Regions from separate parts of the Homo sapiens genome. Here all the other regions are reported to be linked to region 2. Evidence: microRNA targets listed by miRTarBase, many of them from high-throughput screens and not tested one by one. Region 2 holds a microRNA gene; each other region holds the end of a gene's coding sequence.
Evidence for each region. Region 2 holds the annotated microRNA hsa-miR-581 (UCUUGUGUUCUCUAGAUCAGU, at 3,302-3,322, shown strand). A microRNA usually pairs through its seed, bases 2 to 8, with sites in the 3' UTR of a target mRNA and lowers its output. Matches are read on the target gene's strand: a 7mer-m8 pairs with bases 2 to 8, a 7mer-A1 pairs with bases 2 to 7 and ends in A, and an 8mer does both.

Region 1 (7,107 bases), not on the chromosome of region 2:
AGCAGCAGCAACAGCAACAGCAGCAGCAGCAGCAGCAGGCACCGCCGCCTCCACAGCCACAGCAGCAGCCACAGACAGGCCCTCGGCTCCCCCCACGGCAACCCACGGTGGCCTCTCCAGCAGAGTCAGATGAGGAAAACCGACAGAAGACCCGGCCACGAACAAAAATTTCAGTGGAAGCCTTGGGAATCCTCCAGAGTTTCATACAAGACGTGGGCCTGTACCCTGACGAAGAGGCCATCCAGACTCTGTCTGCCCAGCTCGACCTTCCCAAGTACACCATCATCAAGTTCTTTCAGAACCAGCGGTACTATCTCAAGCACCACGGCAAACTGAAGGACAATTCCGGTTTAGAGGTCGATGTGGCAGAATATAAAGAAGAGGAGCTGCTGAAGGATTTGGAAGAGAGTGTCCAAGATAAAAATACTAACACCCTTTTTTCAGTGAAACTAGAAGAAGAGCTGTCAGTGGAAGGAAACACAGACATTAATACTGATTTGAAAGACTGAGATAAAAGTATTTGTTTCGTTCAACAGTGCCACTGGTATTTACTAACAAAATGAAAAGTCCACCTTGTCTTCTCTCAGAAAACCTTTGTTGTTCATTGTTTGGCCAATGAATCTTCAAAAACTTGCACAAACAGAAAAGTTGGAAAAGGATAATACAGACTGCACTAAATGTTTTCCTCTGTTTTACAAACTGCTTGGCAGCCCCAGGTGAAGCATCAAGGATTGTTTGGTATTAAAATTTGTGTTCACGGGATGCACCAAAGTGTGTACCCCGTAAGCATGAAACCAGTGTTTTTTGTTTTTTTTTTAGTTCTTATTCCGGAGCCTCAAACAAGCATTATACCTTCTGTGATTATGATTTCCTCTCCTATAATTATTTCTGTAGCACTCCACACTGATCTTTGGAAACTTGCCCCTTATTTAAAAAAAAAAAAGAAAAAAAAGAGTTTGTTACTCTATTGTATGTTACAAAAGAACTATAGACTGTGGAATGCAGTTTAAAGATGACATATGCCAACAAATGCCTTGTATTATATGGCACTGCCGTAATTCAAATTTGTTTTTATTTTGGAAATAAAAGTTCACTGTACTTTTTTTTCATTCTCATTGTTACATGATTTTTTAAAAAAAGGAAAAGAAAATGTGAAACACAATTTAGTCCTCATTATTTATTTGTAGATCCTGCAGCATCATGTTGTAATTAATTTTTTGGAAGTTTCCGTTAAATGTAATATTGCTTCTCTTGTTACCATACTGATTCTTTTCTATTTATAAATGTATTTTGATGGGCAGTAAAACAAAGTGTCTTAAAAGTTTTAAATAGAGAAAATGTGCTTTACACAGTTGCCTATAAAAAGTGCTCTATGTTATCCAAGCAATTCATACTATAAGCTTCACTCTTATTGTTGTATGCAATTTTTACTATCATGCAAATAAGCTTAGGTAAATAAAACTAATAGATCACCTTAGAAAATTATGCAATTAATGTGAAAATAATTGATGTTTGCAATGTGTCTTCCTTTGGTTTACAATCAATTTTAAAGCTACATCTGTATAAAATTTCTGTATAAAGGTGTATTTCTTTTTTATGAGTTTATGGCTATGAAAACAGCTATTTTGTTACAGCTGGCTGTTTTTATAAGTGTATCACAATTTTCTTTATGCAGAAATGTTCTGACTAGGAGTGGTTATTGACTGTAACTACACAATTAAAATTGTTTGTATCGTATGACATGGTAGGGTTTGTCTGCTTATGTGAAGTAACTAAAGGAGTCAAAGGATGGCCCTCTCATTTAGGTGCATGTTAATAACTTGTTATTTCACTGATTTTAAAAAGAGCAATTGACAAGTTACTTGAAACACTGTAAATTTAAATCACAAACACATGCTCATTTTTAAATAGGTATGAAATTTCACAATGAAAATAACCTGTTTGGTTAACATTTTGCTTAATAAGTAGAGATAGGATGGTCAAAAGACTCTCCGACAAAAACAAATCCAGTCTCTAGCAGTTATGTTGTTAGAATGGATTCATCTGTGCTTATTTCACAATACTTCATTTATAGCAATGCTTTTCCTTAAGCTAATGTATAAATATTTCTAAAGGCCATTAATAGTAACAAAATAAGTAGGGGAAAAAATGGACCTTCTGTATAAAAACCCCTTAGCTTTTTTTTTTCACAAGTTATAAGTGGAATAAGTTAATAACTGAGCTCGTAAGTGTATCTCATAACTATAAGAGCTACATGAAGAAAATAGGAATAACACACCTGGTATTTAAACACAATCTTCAAAATTCTTGCAACATTAAACATAGTAAAATGCCAGAATATAAAATGAGGTGTGCTAATGGTCACAGGATTGAGGCCAGCATTACAGTTTGGGGTGATTTTTCTTTTATTTGCTCCCTCACTTTGTTTCCTAGATGCTAGTAGGGGTATCTGGGTTGCTTGAGATACCATTTTGCAATTGCCCCTTCTCTTTCTGCCTACCATCTTCTCAGGCCCTGATGAGCTTATTGGTAGGCAACTGGGCTGCTTTAGTGTTGAACTTGTACTTTAGAAACTGAAGTGGAATCATTGAAAACTTTCAATAAAGCTTTAAAGTTCCATTTACTTTTGAAGCACAGCTAAGCTCCTCTGAAGGCAGCTGGTTTGTTGCAAACTTAAAATTGTACTGAAAAGTTGCCACTTTTTATTTAGTAAGAAAACAAACATTCTGGCTCACTAGAGTTCAGAAAAGTAATAATTTGAGCCAAAGGAATTTGAATTAAGAAAATAGAAACTAGGTTTCATGTATTTAAAAAATAGGAAATAAAATAGAAACTCAAATGCCATGAAGTTATCTTCCTCTTCCTTATATCCCCTAAGTTTGGGTTGCAAATAACTTTCCAATTCCTAATAACCTAAATTATTTTGAAATAGTGTTTTCAGTGAAATGATGAATGTTTGAATGTTTGTTTGGTAATCAACATAACAATGCTAACAAAATTCCCACTTAGATTTTTTAACTTTTAAAAGTCAGCGTGGTTTTGATAATTTGATATTTTAAATGCCCACACATACACACACACACACACACACACACACACAAGCACATGTTAATAAACTGATAGGATGGAGTGAGCAAAATTGTTTTCAGGGAAGATGGCACATTTTAGAAAAGACTTGCCCAGATGATCTTCCATATTGCTCCCCCAATGTCATTTATCGCTCATGCCAATCCTCCTCTTGTTACCTGTGGCTATGGTAAAATTCCTTTAACAAGCTTCATTGTGTCCAAGTATTTCAGAGACTTTTAAAAGCTGGGCATGACATAGCGTTTTGTGCTGTTAAGACCTTAGCAGAGTCAGGTAGTTTACGGGTAATATTCAACCTTGTGCATCTGAATCTGTCATGGATTCCCTTCACTCAGCACTTTGCCACTAATTTGTATTACACTCTGTGGCCATATAATACTTGCACATTATGCAAAAAAAAATGTTGATAGTATCTCCTTGCCACACAATATGCAGAGTTGACAACCTTTGAAAACCAAGGTAACTAATATGTATGTCCTAGTTGTGTGGCGCTTGGTAACAAAGTCTGTACATATTATGTATAAAATGTGTATTGGTTAGCATTTAGTACTAAGAAATTCTGAGTTTAAAATAAGTGATTTTTTTCAAAGTAGCGATATCTATATCTGTGTTTATCTAAAAATACTGGCTTGAATAGAAAACATTCTCAGATGATTCAAGATTGAGTAAAAATGAGAATCCCATACATTCCATTATTAAATTCTGCCCTATTCCCAATTGTTAGCATCTGGCTGATATTAAGGTCTTTGATTGTCACAATATTCTCAATAAATGAGACATTCTGAACTGCCTGGTGATATTTTCAAAAAGAGCAATTAAAATGTGTATTCCCTCTAATACAGCTGATAGAACTGTTGTGTTAAAGCAAGTTGGAAATTTGCATGATAGTGTGGAAACCAATGGAGGTCCAAAATATTAATCATATCTAAAATATCAGAAAATATCAATACTAGTCTTCTTTATGCATATTTTTGACTTTTTAAGAGGGCTTATGAATTCAATGTTTCTTCTGAGGCAATCCTTTTAATGTAAATACTAAATACTTGCATGTCTTTTGACAAAGGCTAAACTACAATCTATTAATATGCACATTTTTGATAAAATATAAAGTACCCTAATTAAAGAAATTGTGGTAGAAGGTGTATGTCCTGAATACTATACCTGTTTAACAATACCAAATGTTAAATAAAAATAGTTTGAAATTAATGTTTAAAAGATGAGCCACATTTTTAAGACTTTCTTACATTACCCTACTTACAGAGAGCATATATCTCCAAATTTAATTCTATCAAAAGAACACTACCAAAACTCAATTACAGCTTCTTGCCTCGTACCAAGGTTGTGTGGTTACCGTTTCCCAACAATTATTTTCAGCTGCTAATACACTTACTGTGATCAAAAGCACTTGACTTGGGCCCTGTTCTCTATGATAGTGGTTGATGAGCGAATGCAGTAGAGCAGTATGTTATGCAAAGTAAACACTTGCAAAGAAACTCCGAAGTGACATATTTTGCAACAAAGTAAATGGTGAACGTTATTTACTGTGAGTTGAATCAGAAATACTTGCTTTTTGTGGTACTCAAATACAAAATTTTCATTACAATGACACTTTAATGCATGCCCTTACACCACCACCCCCACCTGACACAATGATGTCCCGTGTGCTACTCTGATTTTCCTTTCACAGGAGAACCAACAATACCTGTTAGATGAGAATGTTGAAGAAGAATATTCAAATATTTAAATATGTTTATTCGTTAGTCTGTGGCAATGTGATGCAAAATGAACATTTGTCCAGAGCACAAACCTGTTGAACGGCATCTTAATCTAGGGACAGGTTTCATCTATTCTACCTTTGTTTCCAAAGGGAATTTGCAAACATTTGTTTCACTAGATCTAGTACAAAGGCTTTCTCCTTCTGAGGCCCCCTTCTTAGCACCATCCTCACACATGTTTTAAATAATATAGAAAAAATATTTGCAGAATGCTTCATTTTATTAGGCACTGCCACAAACATATCTTGTTTAAACCTCTGCATTCCACCTTGAGGTATTTAAGGCAGGCACTGACATTCTCACTTCAAAGACAACGGAAGGGAAACTCAAATAGGTTAACTGATTTGTTTAGCTGTTAAGTGGCCACATTTGTCTCAAACTCAAGTCTACACATTTCTCTCTCTTTTCCCTAACAAAAACTCTCTCAAATGCAAAAAAAAAAAAAAAAAAAAAAAAAATGCACACACAAAAACCTAATGGCAATTCAAAATTTTCAGAAATATGTTGTAATGCATATTTTGCTAATATGAAGACTTTGATCACTAACTACTTGAAATCAAGTGTATGGAATATTTCCTCATGAAATAGTGACCTCCAAAGACCTATACACACTAAATGTCTTTTAAAAAACAAATTTTATTGTGGAAAATTTCAAACACACACACAAAAGTAGAGACAAGGAACTCCCATGAATTTATCACCTAATTCAACAATTGTAACATTTTTTCATCAATAAATACTTCATGAAACTAACGAAGATAAAACTTCTACAAAAATCTTTAAACTGTTCAATGGTTTTTACCCATAATGTCGTTATGACATCATCTTTTTTTTTAAGAAATGAATTTTCTGATTTCTAGAGAAAACATTAAAATTTGAAGTTTTTCTCAGAGCTCTCTGAGCATTTTCAAAAAGCCAAGTTTTAGAAGGAGAACATGTGAGAATTCCACAAATATTTGTAATATAAAAAAAGAGACAAACCAGTCTCTATTTATAAACAATACATGCTTTCATATCATTGTTGAAACTAAAGTACATAATTTTCAGTTATGCATAATAAAATATGTAATTAAGCAACATTCCATGGTGGATTAAAGAATTAAAAGCTTCAGGTGCAGAAAAGAATTTGTTGGCATTTTCCTTTTCAAGGTGGTATTTTGAGGTGTTACTTTTCATTTTCCTTTGACATCTTATACACAAATAAATAGACAAAAACAGGTGAGAAGCAGAGAAAATGAAGAATTGGCTCTACTACAATAGACCTGGAAAACATAACTAGGTAGAATATTTGCAACATGCCCAAGAAGGCTAAATAAAAAAGAACAGAAATCTTAGCCTGGAGAGAAAAAAAATCTCTAAACAGGGGTGTATGCCTCAAGACATAGAAATAGCATAATAAAAACTTAACTGGATTTGGTAATTCCTATATTTCAAACTACATTAAATTAATCCACACTCCAACTGGCAGAGTCCAGCAAACTTATTTTTCAAATGAAGAACTAAATTTAATTAATAATTCTGTGCTGTAAACACTGAAGTTGATACAGGCATTTGGCATTTGTCCTATTTTTTTAAAGGATAATATATCATGTAAAATCAAACTACTTAAATGTCAGAATGTGTCAGGATGATTCTGAAAGTAAATTATTCTACCAAGCATCTAAGAAGAAAATAATGTTACAGAAATGAAACTGCATCTAACATCAGTAGGACTTGCTATTTAGTGTCTAAAATTTTTCATGTAATGCTTAAACTACAGTTATAATCAACCACATAAGATCAAGTAAATTCAATATCATGTACTTATATCATTCAAATCCTGCCACAGAAATATGTTCAGTGAATGAATGAATGAATGAATGAAATTAGACAAATTAGAAAAACCATTGAACAGATTGTATGGGAATGAGAACTACATCCTATGGACAGTCCTCTTAGTGAGGCATTCTAAACTGACATGCAAAGAGGCATTTGTTGGCCTTTAAAATATCACATCTCATGGTCCTGTTGAAATATAACATTGTTATACATCTTATTACAAAAAGAATTTGCTAAGACTTTCATATATACTACAATGCAATAGAATCGAAAAGAAAAAAATACAACAAAATGAATGCAAACGAATAGAAAATAACACAAATTGAAAGGAAAGCTTGACACACACACGAATATCATGAGATCTTAACGCAATTTATTAGAGGGGACTACCAAAATTATTGATGTATGATTAACATAAACTTTACAT
Region 2 (7,124 bases):
CACTGGAGTGGAGGTCAGAAATTAGATCGATGCTCTTTCCATAAAATAGTTTCCACTTTAAGAACAGTGTTTTTAAAAGGAATATGTTCTTTCCTATGCAAAGAGGCAGTGTGGTCCTAGTTAGCAGTATGTTGGAAGCAAACTTTGGATAATGATGCCTAATTTTACTGACCGTTTTGAGTATTAAATGAGTCTATTTATGTAAAATATTTGATCTAGAGGCCTAACACTGTGTGGATTCTCAATAACCTAACCTGTTTACATGAGTTCTTAAAGTTGAATATGAGTTTCTACTCACTTTTCAGGTTATCAAGCATTTGGTGTGAAAGGAAACTGTTCTGTGGCAGACATGAAATGGCTGGGAAGTGGGAAACGCAGGGACATGATGTTCAAGGAGTGGACAGGTGATCCAGTGAGGAATTGGGCTATGGAACATGGAAATATTCTTAGAAAGTAATTACCTTATTTTTCTCCTTTTGTTGTATTAACTGATTAGCTTAATCACCTCCAAATAATGAGAAATCAGTATACAAGTTCTACACCTTGGCAGAGGGCTTGGATCCCAAGACAGAGGAAGGTATTTGCAGATGATGGATGGAGAGGATATATACAGCAACCTTACTGAAGTAGCTGGGTCTTCCTTGCCTGTATGTCATACCATGCTTCTTCAAATGTTTTATCCAGACTAAAGGATGCCAGGACTGATTTCCCAAACATTAGGATAATTCTACCACTTAGAGGAATGCAAGAAAGCTCCCCTGTCTTTGGTGATTTTTTTTTTTTTTTTTTTAAGTAGAAGATGAGAAATAGCTTGTATGGAACAGAGAAGTCTTTGTACCGATACATATTCAACTAAAGATCTGAAAATCAATAATCTCAGGTTTTGAAAATAGAATGCTATTCTTATACCATATGTTTAATGTACATCTGTATAAGGTTAACAAAAATCTATTACCATCTCACTACTTAGTCTGAAATGGAAAACCTAGTGTTTTTAAGTGATCATAGATAATTCATTAAAGCGTAAGGCTCCTACATAATAATTATTGCTTGTCACTTTTGAATCAACAAATAGATATTATGATGGATCAGAGAACTTTTGATATATCCGTATTAATTATGATTGTCTCATTAAATATAGAAAATGTTTGTTCTCACATTCCTTTGGCTGACACCTCCTCTTCCTTCAGGCGTCGGCATTACAAAATGTATTTCCCACTGCACCTGCCCCTGCCTCTACCCATCCCTACCACCTTTGCCCTCCACCCTCTTCATATGAAAAGGTCTTCCTGCTTCACACCCATAGCACACTGACCATCAGTAGCACTGATCACAACTACAGTTGGTTAAATTTTGCGTAATAAATTTTCTAATGAGGATTTACCTCAATATATTCTCTGCTTCAAGAAATAGTGATATTAGGAAAGGGCATATACAAACAACTCAATCTACTTTGCTGTATAAAAAGTTCACTTATTTATAGAAAATTTAAATATAATACATATTAAGATTCTCTGAGCTCCCTACTAAATAACAATAACCCCTCACATTTGCATAGTGCTTTATACAAGACACGTATATTATCCTCCTCAATTCTTCAGAGGTAGGTAGAATCTCATTTATTTTATGGATAAGAAACTGAGACTCAGAAAGGTTAAGTAAGTTCCACAAGATCATGGAGCCTAGTAATTTGCAAAATAAGGCCTCCAATCAAATCCTAGTTTTCTTTCTATACCCCAGCTGCAGCTTTTAGTAATGGTCTAGTTCAGCATACATATAAATATTTATAAACATTGTGTCATTGTTCTGAATGAGTATATCTTACTATTTTGACTGTTTTATGACAGTGGAGCTGCGTAGTAAAGTGAACATTTGCAGAAGTTTAATCTACAGCCATTTTATATTCCCTCTCCCTCTGCTTTGAGATTTTATCCTTTGCTAGCAACAACATTCTTCTGTAACAACAAATAAAGCAAGCATCTTCCTATTTGCCTTCAAATAAAACAGGTTTAGGGATTATCTGCTCTTTTCACATACTTAAACACACCTTGAGTTTCTTTTTATAGACTTTCCTTTCTCCTGACACTGTGAAATCCCAGTGCTGTTTCTTATTTGAATGTTTTATCATCTGACACCTAATAATAAAAAGTCATTGGCACAATAACAGAGTTTCATCTTTCTTAAAGTTTAAAAATGTTTAGAAATTATTTCATTTCTTAAATAAAAATTGCAGTAGAATTAAGTATTTCCCTAGAGAGATAAAGATTGAAATTTGAAAGTAAATTGCTACTAACTTTGAGCCAATTAAAAAACTTTCATGGAAATGATTTTTTTCACATTCATTTTTTTTAATGTAGTGCTAAAACCAAGGAGTATCATATAAAACAGGCCCAAGGCACGTTTTGTACCTAAGCTAAAAATTACTTTTGTGGCCTTTGACATATCAAGGAACTTTGCTATTATAATGCAAGCATAAGATGAAATTTATTCAACCTTTTGAAAGTTTAAACATAAAAAGTTTAACATAAGAAACTAAAAAGTTTAAACATAAAAAACAGTTATTGTCTGTGCAAGGACTCAAATTCTTTCACTCTCTTCTTTTTTGTTTGTTTGTTTTTATTTTTGAGACAGAGTCTCACTCTGTTGCCCAGGCTGAAGTGCAGTGGCGTGATCTCAACTCACTCCAACCTCTGCCTCCCGGGTTCAAGCAATTCTCTGCCTTAGCCTCCCGAGTAGCTGGGATTACAGGCACCCACCACCATGCCTGGCTATTTTTTTTATTTTTAGTAGAGACAGGGTTTCACCATCTTGGCCAGGCTGGTCTTGAACTGACCTCATGATCCACCCTCCTCGGCCTCCCAAAGTGCTGGGATTACAGGCGCGAGCCACCACGCCCAGCTACTCTCCTCTTTCACACACAATTTCCAAAATCACAGCACAGATTGTCCAGAAAACATTTGTACTAATAGTTTTGTTTATGGAATTTGAGTTATTCCCCAAAGCACAAAATGTAAAAAAAAAAAAAAAAAAAAAAAAAATTCTTTTATGTAAAGTCTAAGAGAACAGTAAAAATATATAATGTGGTAGCTGGTAAGGAAGAAACTGGTTATAATTTTAAAGCATAAAGCATAATGCTTGAAAAAGATTCATGGAAAAACTATAATTTTATCTAGTTAATATATTTACAAAGCAATATATTTATTTACTGATATTTTTAGTGGTCATCATATCGAAAATATATAGGGAAGGAGTATATAGGGAAGGAGTAAGTAAGGTTTTCCAAAAAGTTATGTGAAGGTATTCTTGTGTTCTCTAGATCAGTGCTTTTAGAAAATTTGTGTGATCTAAAGAACACAAAGAATACCTACACAGAACCACCTGCAGACTGGTGCCAGTCCACAAAATATCTGTTTGAGTATGCAAGAAGATAAATACAGAAATTGAGAGTAAACATTTAGGAAATTTATAGCAATCTGACATCTCTGCAACATCCAAAGTATATGATTTTTGTATTCTACAAAAGCTTAGCTCAGATCTATGATGGGTTAGAAAACAAATACTCAAAACAAACCAGCTCCTTCACCACAGATGGTATTTGAAGTTCTGATCAAGCTCATGGTCTGCAAACCTTTTCTCTAAAGGGTCAGATTGTAAATATAGGCTTTGTAGGCCATACTCAAAGTCCCTGCTACTCAGCTCTCCCATACCCAGCTGCAATAGACAATATATAAACAAATGAATCTTGCTGTGTTTCAGTGAAACTTTATGGACATTGAAATTTGTATTTCATCTAATTTTTATGTTCTTAATATGCTAATATTGTTTTGATTTTTTTCCCCCAACCATTTAAAACTGTGAAAACCATTCTTGGCTCTTGCAGGCCATATGAAAACAGGGAGTGGGCTGGATTTGGCCCTCAGGCCAAGTTTGCTGACCCCAAGCTAGATCAGCAGTCCAGCCATCGTCAGGAACAGATGCTGTTATTTCTTAGTCTCAGTGTTCCCGTCTGTCTCGGGATTTTAATTGCCACTTACTTTCACTCTGCAGTTTGGGTTATTATTCAAGAAATACCTTAGAGCACTCATAATGCTTAGAACATTATGTTTAATAAAATCCAGAAGGAAAATGTTCCAAGTATCTCACTGTGGGAATACATTTTAGGATTTACTATGACCTACTGGTTTACATGAACTTTGCTGAGAAAAAAAAAAGCATGGAGAAGATTGGGATGGAAGATCTCTTTATTGTGTGTATAAAAGTAGTAATAGGCTATTTTAATTTGTGGCCTGGAATGGGTAGTGATAGAGCATGAGTTGAAATCTTGCTTCACGATTACCCTCAAATGGAGAAGTAATCTGTTTCAAATGGTAATCAAATGAAAAAAAGCTGTGAGTAGATTGTGTTAGCTTAGCCACCAAAATAGAGAATTTCTCAGATTCCCCCTCTGTCTCCAGTCCTTATTTTCTCCTACTGTTAACAGAAATTCAAACCCCAGCTGCTCCCATAGTTAACCAGCCGTCATGACATCGTCGTCTTTCTGTTCTTAGCAATTTCCATCTGGCTTAGTAGAAGTGGTTCCTCACTACCTTGAGCATAGTCGTTTTTTTTTTTTTAATTTTTGTAGAAACGAGGTTTTACTGTGTTGCCCTGGCTGGTCCTGAACTCCTGGCCTCAAGCATTTCTCTCACCTCAGCCTCTCAGAGTGCTGGGATTACAGGCATGAGCCACCATGCCCAGGCCGCCACTTTAAACACTTGAATACTACATACTTTCACTACTTGATTGATCTTGCACATAATCATCAAATTACAACATTCATGTTTATGGTTTTACTTATTTGTTTTTCACATTTATGTAGTGCCTTTTTTTCTGCATCGCTTAACATTTGCCAACAAATATCTGCACGTGAACTAAGCAAGTCATTCTGTTAGCACAATGACCTTGAGCAAAGGCACTTTCCTTCTTCATATGCATTTGTTAGTCTTTAGTCCTAAGTTTTTGCTTTTGTTTAGTTTGTTTTTTCACTCTTCACATACGAGCAGTCTTTTGGAAAGAGTTACTTATAGTATTTCTAACTTGGAGAAACCTTTCATCAAGTTGAAAAAGTTCAGTGTTCTGAGCGATTATGATAGAATCTCCTGTCAGAATATATGTTCCCTTTTTGTTCTACTTCAAAATATAAGAGGTTAACTCTTGTAGGCATGCCACAGTATTTTTGGATTAAGTCAGGCCCTCCAAAAAACTTAGAACTATGAAACAAACCAGTGTTTAAGAAGACACATCCTTGGAATATGAGCAAGCCCATTAATTCTGTATTTTGAGTAAAAGGTGTTTGATCTTATGCATGCTGTCTTCCATGTCATCATTTCAAATGATGAAGAAACTACATCTCCTAATATTTGAGAACAAACTGCAAAAGTTGGTCCCTTGATTGTATTATAAATCCATAAAAAGACCCATTTTTAAACACAGCAACTTTTTAGGCAACTTCCTGTTTTTCACTTGAAATAGAAGTCAAACTGTTATAAGTGCTGTCTTCATTATTCATATTTAATTACACAGTGGCTTATTCTTCATTATTTTAGTGTATTTGTGAATACTCTAGCTATTGAGTAGAATACTGGTTACAAAGCTAGTCTATAAACAACATGAAATGAAGGGTGCTGACTCAGAAATTTAGAGTCCTCCACAATACCATATCCAATGGGAATTAAATCATTGTATTGTCTTGTGAGTCTTGAGGCTTATTTATCTAACTGATGTTTATCAAGCACCTTCCATGTGGCAGGCAGTATGTAGCTTTTATTTTATTTAGCAGTATCTTTTTTAAGATTATAAATTTTTTGTTGAATATTATTTGCAATCAGGGACACTTCTAAACTTAAGGAAAAACTTTACGACTAAAGTGCCAGCTCTCTTCAGAATGGCAGTGAAGGTAATGATTTGCGGTTCTGTGTGTGTATGAGTTTGTTATTATAAAATCCTTCAGCTCCGGGCTATGTACATTTATGTTTCAGTAGCATGTCTCATTAAATCCTTTAGTGCAGTACTTCTCAGTGAAGTGAGTTCTGATCAATGTGAAGGAATGCTGAGTGGGCACAATTGTGACTCTTGTTCTGAATATTACCTGTGCTTCCAGAAAAGTATTTTAGCAAGTGTATGACCCCTGGTTAATGAAAAGTGTTAAAATATATCAAATAAACTGTCTTAATTGTTCTTTTAATAAAAATATATGTCCACTTGGAAATAATAATTTCACTATTTTAACGACTGTAGTTGTTTTGGAAATTTGTTAGATAAAGGCTCCAACAGCATAAACTAATAGTTTTATATTACCAGATTGCTTCCAGATTTCTCTTTTCTGTTCAGTGAATAAGAATAGGGTGTAGGATCAAATTTCTAATGATTTTCTCCAGGAGAACCACTGTTACGCAAATACCGAATTTATAACACTTCAAAATAGACATCAGGGCAAATTTTACAAGACCTATCAGTTCATTTTTATTGTTTGCTTCTGTAGGTAGTCATATAGAAGACCAAAAGAACCATAAAACACTGTTTTTACATACATGATGATAGGAGTTAGGTGGGGTAAAGTTTACTAATATTTGTTAAGGAACCTACTACAGTAGTTCCAACTTTATTTTGGACACTTACATTTGTTTGTCATTATCTGTCCTCTGTTCCCAAATTGCCTTAATTTGTATATCATCATCTTACGTATTCACTGTCATTATCTCAAGTTTCCAAGGGTTTTTGCTATGTCACTATTTTTTACCTGTGCCTATTCTATTTCTTTTCTTTCTAATTTGTTTATTAGTTCTACAGTGTTATTGTTTAATTTATTGTTTCCTTCTGCAACCTCCCTTTTTATCTCATTTTTTTCCACTGGTGTCTCATTTAATTTCTATTTTCTTTAATCTTGTAGTGTAATGCACTCACGGAGATTTTTGGAGGAAGGTGGAGAGGGCTGTTTTCTTCTAAACTAGATTCTTGCTTCCTTCCCAGCCCTCCCCCTTTCTTTCATTTTTTTCTTTGCTCTGGGAGTCCTGCTTAGTTGTCATAGTCTTTTCTCTTTGTAAAACTTAAGTTGAATATGAACAACTCACTCAGGATCTTTTCTT
Region 3 (7,107 bases), not on the chromosome of region 2:
CTGCAGCTCCAGCCCAGGCCTCAGCAGCTATTCCTGCTGCTGGGAAGGCTCTGGCTCAAGCTCCGGCTCCAGCTCCAGGTCCAGCTCAGGGACCTTTGCCAATGAAGTCTCCAGCTCCAGGCAATGTTGCAGCTAGCAAATCTATGCCAATTTCTATCCCTAAGGCCCCAAGGGCAAACAGTGCCCTGACTCCACCGAAGCCAGAGTCAGGGCTGACTCTCCAGGAGAGCAACACCCCTGGCCTGAGACAGATGAACTTCAAGTCCAACACTCTGGAGCGCTCAGGCGTGGGACTGAGCAGCTACCTTTCAACTGAGAAAGATGCCAGCCCCAAAACCAGCACTTCTCTGGGAAAGGGCTCCTTCTTGGACAAGATCTCGCCCAGTGTCTTACGTAATTCTCGGCCCCGCCCGGCCTCCCTGGGCACGGGGAAAGATTTTGCAGGTATCCAGGTAGGCAAGCTGGCTGACCTGGAGCAGGAGCAGAGCTCCAAGCGCCTGTCCTACCAAGGACAGAGCCGTGACAAGCTTCCTCGCCCCCCCTGTGTCAGTGTCAAGATCTCCCCAAAGGGTGTCCCCAATGAACACAGAAGGGAGGCCCTGAAGAAGCTGGGACTGTTGAAGGAGTAGACTCTGCGACCAGTACAGACCCTGTCCTGGCTGAACAAGAAGAGACACATGCTCCACTTGGGAGCCTTTGCCACCACGCAACTCAGGGCTCAAGATGAATGGGAGGGAGAGATTTGAGTCCAAGCATACATTTATATTCAGTGTTGTGCCATTGAGTTCCCATGTGGATCATTCTGAAGGTGATCTCCACAAGAGGGTGTGTGTGTGTGTGTTTGGTGTGTGTGTGGAGGGGGGGCCGCTGGATACATCACTGAAGCTATTGATATAACACAATGAGTCACTGTTCAGAATTTTGCTCTTGTTAGATGTTTTCTTACATTGGGTAGAGTCCAGCCTAGTGAGAGCTGAGTGAAGGGGCTGGCCATGCCTGAGACAAAAAGTCAAATGAGACAATGGACGTGTCAATGACTTGAAAAAAAGTCACATCCAGCAAATGCAGGGTCACATGAAATATGGGCCTCCTGGAATCCCTACAGTGGATGGAGACTGGCTCATACCTTGCCAGATCCCTCTCTCAGTTCCAGCCTTCTGGACAAGGCCTGGGCTAAGAGGAGCTGATTCGTTATCTCTTCACCCACTGCCCTCTCAGTATCACCAGTCCCAAAGACAGGATACGTCCCTGTAACCCAATCTCTCGGTTGATTGATAGCAGAACAGCTCTTGTTGGTCTGAGAAGGCAGGATAAGTGACCACATATTTATGCCACTACCTCCACCAGGGAGAGTCCTTCTCCACAGGCTTGATAAATTCAATCACCAACTGTGCTGTCGTCCCTGACTCTGCTACTCCCGTTCTTCCTGCTTTCCTGCTCCGTATCTCAGTCTGCACTGACCCCAGGGCTGGGCTGACATCAAGATGGGAGCCCAGCCCACGGGCTTTATAAACACCCAAGAACCGTTTCAGATCTTCTCTGTGCTGATGCAGGTAGTTTTAAATTTTTCTCAGTTCCAGTGATAGAAAACCCACACAATACATCCTCTGCCAGTCTTAATAGAATATCAGAGGTAAGAGGGGCCTCAGAGAAGCTCTGACGCAGTGCTGCTGGGGAAGGGAAGTGACTAACCCCGGGTCAGCCTGCCATTTAGGGAAAGAGCTGAGGTTCTTACCCTTGTTGCATGCTGCCACCTCTCCTTAGCCAGTGCTCTTGTACATCCACACAGCACCCTAAGGAGCCATAGTCACCATCAAAGACTCAACCCTAAGGCCCTTCAAGATCTCAAAGTGCCTTCTGAAGCATCAGAGATTAAATATTGTTCAAACTAATAGTTATTGCTGTGGCTTTTAATTTTATCTTTGGAAGATAGCTATATGGTAACTCATCATTAACCAGAACACCTCTCCCCTCAAATTCCGTGACCAAGTTGTGCAGCTTGAGCAAATGCCGAAAGAGGGTATTATGGGTGGGTGGTGTGGGCTTGCAAATACAAGCTTGGAGGTGAGACATGGCCAGACATGACTCCTGCTTCCCCTTAGGAAGTAAATCTTACTTATGGTTGTGAACTGCTTGGAGTCCAGGATGCCCAGATGTGAGGGGCAGATGAAGGGAATGTTGCTGGAAAGGTGCCTTTTAAGGCTGCTGAGAATTTCTGGACTGTGTCCTGATGGACGCAGCACCATCAAAGCCCAGAATTTCTGAAAACGGTGACAAGGTTAACATAAGGACAACAAATACTCCACCCTGTCATGGTATGTGAGGTGTGGGTGTGGCGGTTTCTGTGTACGTTTGCTCATACACGCACATCCAAAAGCCTGTGCCTCATTCCTGGCCATGGGTGAGGACTTGGTCTGTCACGGCTGATGAGGACTCCCACAACCGGCCAAGTTATGTCTTATTATACACCCCCAGAAAGAGAGAAAGCTGCCTTCTGGAGGACTGATTCCACATGCTATATTCAGCTGAGTTGATTTCTGTGTCTATTTCAACCCATAACCTGAAGAATGATCACCTTATTCCTTATTCATTAATTTTCTTGATTAATAGGGAAACTTGGGAATAGCTATAAAGTAAAACTTGGGTGGAACCTGGGGCCCTGGCATCACACAAGTGTGATTAGGATGGTCAAGGTCATCAGGAGTACAGCCTATTATATTCCCACATCCTGAGAAAGGTCATTTCTCCCACACACGACAAAGTCACAGACATCCTGCACCTGCCACTAGGCATCCTCATCCTACTGACATGCCCATTTCTCCAGTTTTCTTAATCTGAGACTCCCTTCCCTTGTTTTTTAAAGATACCGTGCTTCTCCACATCCTCATCCTTCAAGGAGCATATTTTGCTCTTAGGATGGTCTTTGGGATTCAAGAATAGAATAATAAATCCAAACTTGGTCATTCCCATTTTGAAGAGATGCAAGAGGGCCCAGTGAGGACATCCGCCTCCCTGAAAGTGGTGCTAGACAGAGCTGAGGTCATTGTATCTGTGTATCCACATAGGATTTCTCTTAATTCAGCTTGAATTGATGGGGAGGGAGGTAAGAGTAGGGTCAGAGTTACTCATCCCTTTTCAAAGAATTGTGGGTGGAAGTTTGTAAAGGCCATTCATTTGATTTTCAAAATCAAAGCGACAGCTCTACTTCCACTTGGCCTTAGATCTCTGCTATACCCTGCCATAGCCTTGATGCCACTGGGCACAAGCCACCTGCCAAATACAGGAGTGGCCTCTCCCAGCCTGGCATGATAGGGGGGTCTGTGCCCTCAGATGTGTTGACAGCTGCTCTTCTGAATTGCCACACCTGTGCTACACTTGGAATTCTGTGCTCTGACTCTGCAGGGTAGGACCACGTGCCATCTCACACAGAGGTCAACCGATGAGCCCACTCACTCGTACATGCCTTCTTCCACAGTGGGAAGCATGATCTGGCAGGGGCCGCCCTGTAGGCTGGGGATGGGCTGCTGTGTGAATGTTGACGTTCGTTTCATGGAGAAAGGGGAGGTGAAAGATTGAAGAGCAGGTTCCTGTCAATGTTCTGAGTTCGAGCTGGAGGTGTAGATTGAATAGTCTACATGGTCTGTGAGTGTGTGAGATGAACCCTTCCATCCTTTGACACCTGGTTGTATGTGTAGGCTAAGAAGGAAGGACCCTCCTGTCAGTGTGCAAAGCTGTAATCTCATGGACTAGAGGAGAGGGGGCCAAGGGGATGGACAGGAGAAGTCATGCAGAATCTAAGCAGGAATGCAGATAGAACACATCTAGGCTCTTTTCCCCAGGAGAGTGATGATGGAGCATATAGATCTGGCTCAAATTCAGCCTCCATCACTTACCAGTCAGGAACCCTGGCGATATCACTTTAACTTTCTGAACCTCAGAGTCTTCACCTATAAGACGGGGAAAATAATACCACCCTTTCAAGATTGTTGAGATAAATAAGTGATATAAAACATGTAAAGCTTAGTTCTGGCCACAGTGTAGCTACTCAATAAATGATAATACTACCTTCTGGGTCTTATTTTTTTCTTCTCAAAGGAGGTGACTGTAGGGAGGGTTGGATACCAAGGGCTCACCCAACTCACTTCTGAGAGAAAGATAGAGCCTGCTGCACACAAAACTTACGGCACAACCAGGCTTCGGCACAGCCTCCACGTGACTCAGCTTCACCCATGCCAGGCTTCCTGGAGTTTGAAAAGACAGCAATTGGCATGGGTGTAATGTGTGTGTTCCGGTGCAGCCTGAACCAGCTGTTTCCAGCTTTCATATCCTCAAATCCAACTTCTCCTGTATCATCAGTCTCTTACTGCCCATGACCATAGAGCAAGCTTCTTTTTGCTTCCTTTTACTTTCTTTTGCTGTGTGGTTCAGAGAACTATATGCTGTTCTACAGTTATTTATTTTTAAAATGAAGGTAAAAAAAATAAGCATATAACAGGAGGGAACTCCTCAGAAAGAAATAAAAGCTAGAAAAGGTTTTAAAATTCCTTTTTTTTATTTTAAATAGCACGTTCTTTTAAATTTGTTCATCTCTGGAATGAATCAGGCATTAGTTATCAGGAGGCAAGAAGTACATTGGATGAGGTCTCTAAATCTCTTCAGGTGTAGGGACCTGTGAATTGCTGGAGTCATGACCACTGTCACAATCATCACTGACTGTTAGCATACACATGTGGTAAAAACAGATTACACTCTAATTCCAGGCTGTCACTCTCTCTTACTCATTACCTAGTTGGATTGTTGTCCTTATCACCACTTGCCACGTATCCAGAATTCAAAATAATGTGAAACAGGCAGAGGCCTGGACCAGGTGAGATTTAGTGGGTCACTTCTTCTCACTCTCAACATGAGGGACTTGGTCTTTCTCCTAGATCCATGCTAGCCCTGAAATGTATGTTTCGGTAAATCCAAACAAGTTAGGAAGATAAACACCTGCCAAAAATAATCAAAATATAGTCTAAAATAAACTAAACCTCAGAGAACTTGAGAACGGAAAGGAAACTTTTAGGTTCTGTAATTCAACCTCCCACCTAAAGAGGAATTATCTCTATAGTTGGAGATACATATGTTTCTTCCTTTCTTTCTATCTACCTATCTATATCTATGGTCAGAAATAAACACACACACATATATATATATGTATATATATATACATGTAGGACCAGGAAGACGGGAGGTTCGGTTTGGGGCATACTGAGTTTGAGGTTGCTGTGGGACTTCTAAGCTGACATGGCCTCTGGCATGTCAACTTAGATAGCTATATCTATATCTATATCTATATCTATATCTATATCTATATCTACCTCCAACTATGTATATATAGAGAGAGATATGGTCAGAAATATAGTTGGATAGATGGATGGAGGCTTGATGGATGGATGGATGGATGAGTGGATAGATGGAAGAAGATAAGAAAGGAGGGAAGAGGAGGGGAGGGAAGAGAGATTGAGAACATACAGTGGCCAAGAGCATAGGCTCAGGAGCCAGGCTGCCAGGGTCTCTGCACTTCAGTTTCCTTTTCGGTGATTACCTTTTGCATCTTTTAACTTTCTTTGTTGTGTGGTTCAGGGAACTTTATGCCGCCCTACAGTTATTGTTTATCTTAAAAATGGAGAGAAAACGAACTTAGATTATAACAGGATGGAACCTCGTAAAGTAAGGCAATAATAATACTTACCCCTTGCAGTTTTTATGAAAATAGAATCAAATGAGATACTACATATAAAAAAAACCATAGCACACTGCTGAATAAATGGTGTCTATTCATATTATTATCATATAGACGTGTAATTCAGATGCCAACTGGGACCCCCATCAGGACTGGTTAATCTTGGCCTGCACCTAGATTCCTCAGAACTGAAACAGTCAAAGCCCTCCTCCAGTTTTAAGAGCCTCCTACAGTTCTGTCCTATCTGCATCTGTGTGTGCTGCTTCGGAGCCTCCCCACACCTGCCTCCTTCCCAATCCACACTCTGCCATCCCTAAGCCACTGTCTCTGTCTCCGCTCACTATTGGTCTAGACCCAAAGCCCAGGCCTTTCACTGATTCCCATGGGAAATCAGGTTTCGTTAAGCATTTTGTTATTTTCTGAGTTTTTTACTGAAGGTCAGTGTGGGGGATGCTGGGGGACCTATCACAACCACATGGCCTCACATCACCTCCCCTTCCACCCTTTCTTTTTCTTTTCCAACTTATAGCACAACCAGCAAATCCTTCTCACCTCCACCCGACACTTGAGGGCTCTTAGGATCTAAGCGTCAACCCCCAGAGACTTTTCAAAAAATTCCTCTTACGTGAAGAGAGTTGCTGCGCCAAACTCTGTACATCTCTACAGATGGAAAGATCATTCTGGTGGCTGGGTTGGGAGGGGACTGAGACAGGCTGGGATGGGTGTGAAGGGAACAGTTAGAAAGCTACTGCTGTAGTCTGGGAGGGAGGCAGTGTGGCACTGTGCAGCTGTGGTGGTGGCAGAAAGAAGAAAAGAAAGAAGGTTTGAAGATGTTCATCACTGACATGATTTGGTGGACCTATTACTGAGGGTGAGGAAGAGGGTGAGGTCATGAGTCATGTTTTGGTTTCATTCCTTCGTGATTGGATGGATACTAATACCACTCACTGAGACATAGACCATGGCGAGAGGCTCAGATCTGGGGGTCCCCTGCATGGGTCTGTGTTTGGACATGTTGAGAGTACAGCGCTCTCTACCTCCTGGGCCTTCATGCCTGAAAGTAGGACTGAGGCTACAGCACAAGTTGACTTGCAACATCAACACCTCCTCCAGCTCACACCAACCCTGCCACACTCTGCTTTAGTGGGTAGGCAGGACTCTGTGAAGGCCTCCTTTGGATTAGTTCCTGGCTCTGTTCAGTTGCTTGGATCTGAGGAAATATTTGTCATCTCCTCTTTGAGTGACTCTCCTGCCCCCGTCCTTTAGGCAGGGGCTCCTGAAGGATCTGTCTTCATGTTCTCTTATTAAAAGCATCAAGCTGGTCCCAGCTCTGAGACTCTACCTTGGCTGTTCCTTCTGCTGGAGTTCTCCGCTCCTCATCT

Region 1: the mRNA of SATB1 is a reported target of hsa-miR-581. Seed matches in the 3' UTR shown: 7mer-m8 at 3,096-3,102.
Region 3: miRTarBase lists C1orf116 as a target of hsa-miR-581. Seed matches in the 3' UTR shown: 7mer-A1 at 817-823 and 7mer-m8 at 2,668-2,674.

Annotation. Positions count from the first base shown.
Region 1 is chr3:18,342,572-18,349,678 of GRCh38, reverse strand. SATB1 (SATB homeobox 1) reads left to right here. Exons shown (of 11, transcript NM_002971.6): 11 at 1-4,302. The coding sequence ends at 509. Among named protein-coding and RNA genes, the nearest start is that of SATB1, 79 kb to the left of the region's middle. RefSeq lists an enhancer at 4,288-4,908.
Region 2 is chr5:53,947,762-53,954,885 of GRCh38, reverse strand. It overlaps MIR581 (microRNA 581), which reads left to right and starts at 3,287; the gene lies at 3,287-3,382. All of the region lies in intron 4 of ARL15 (ARF like GTPase 15), which reads left to right.
Region 3 is chr1:207,015,480-207,022,586 of GRCh38, reverse strand. It overlaps C1orf116 (chromosome 1 open reading frame 116), which reads left to right. Exons shown (of 4, transcript NM_023938.6): 4 at 1-4,065. The coding sequence ends at 629. Among named protein-coding and RNA genes, the nearest start is that of C1orf116, 14 kb to the left of the region's middle. RefSeq lists an enhancer at 1,841-3,040.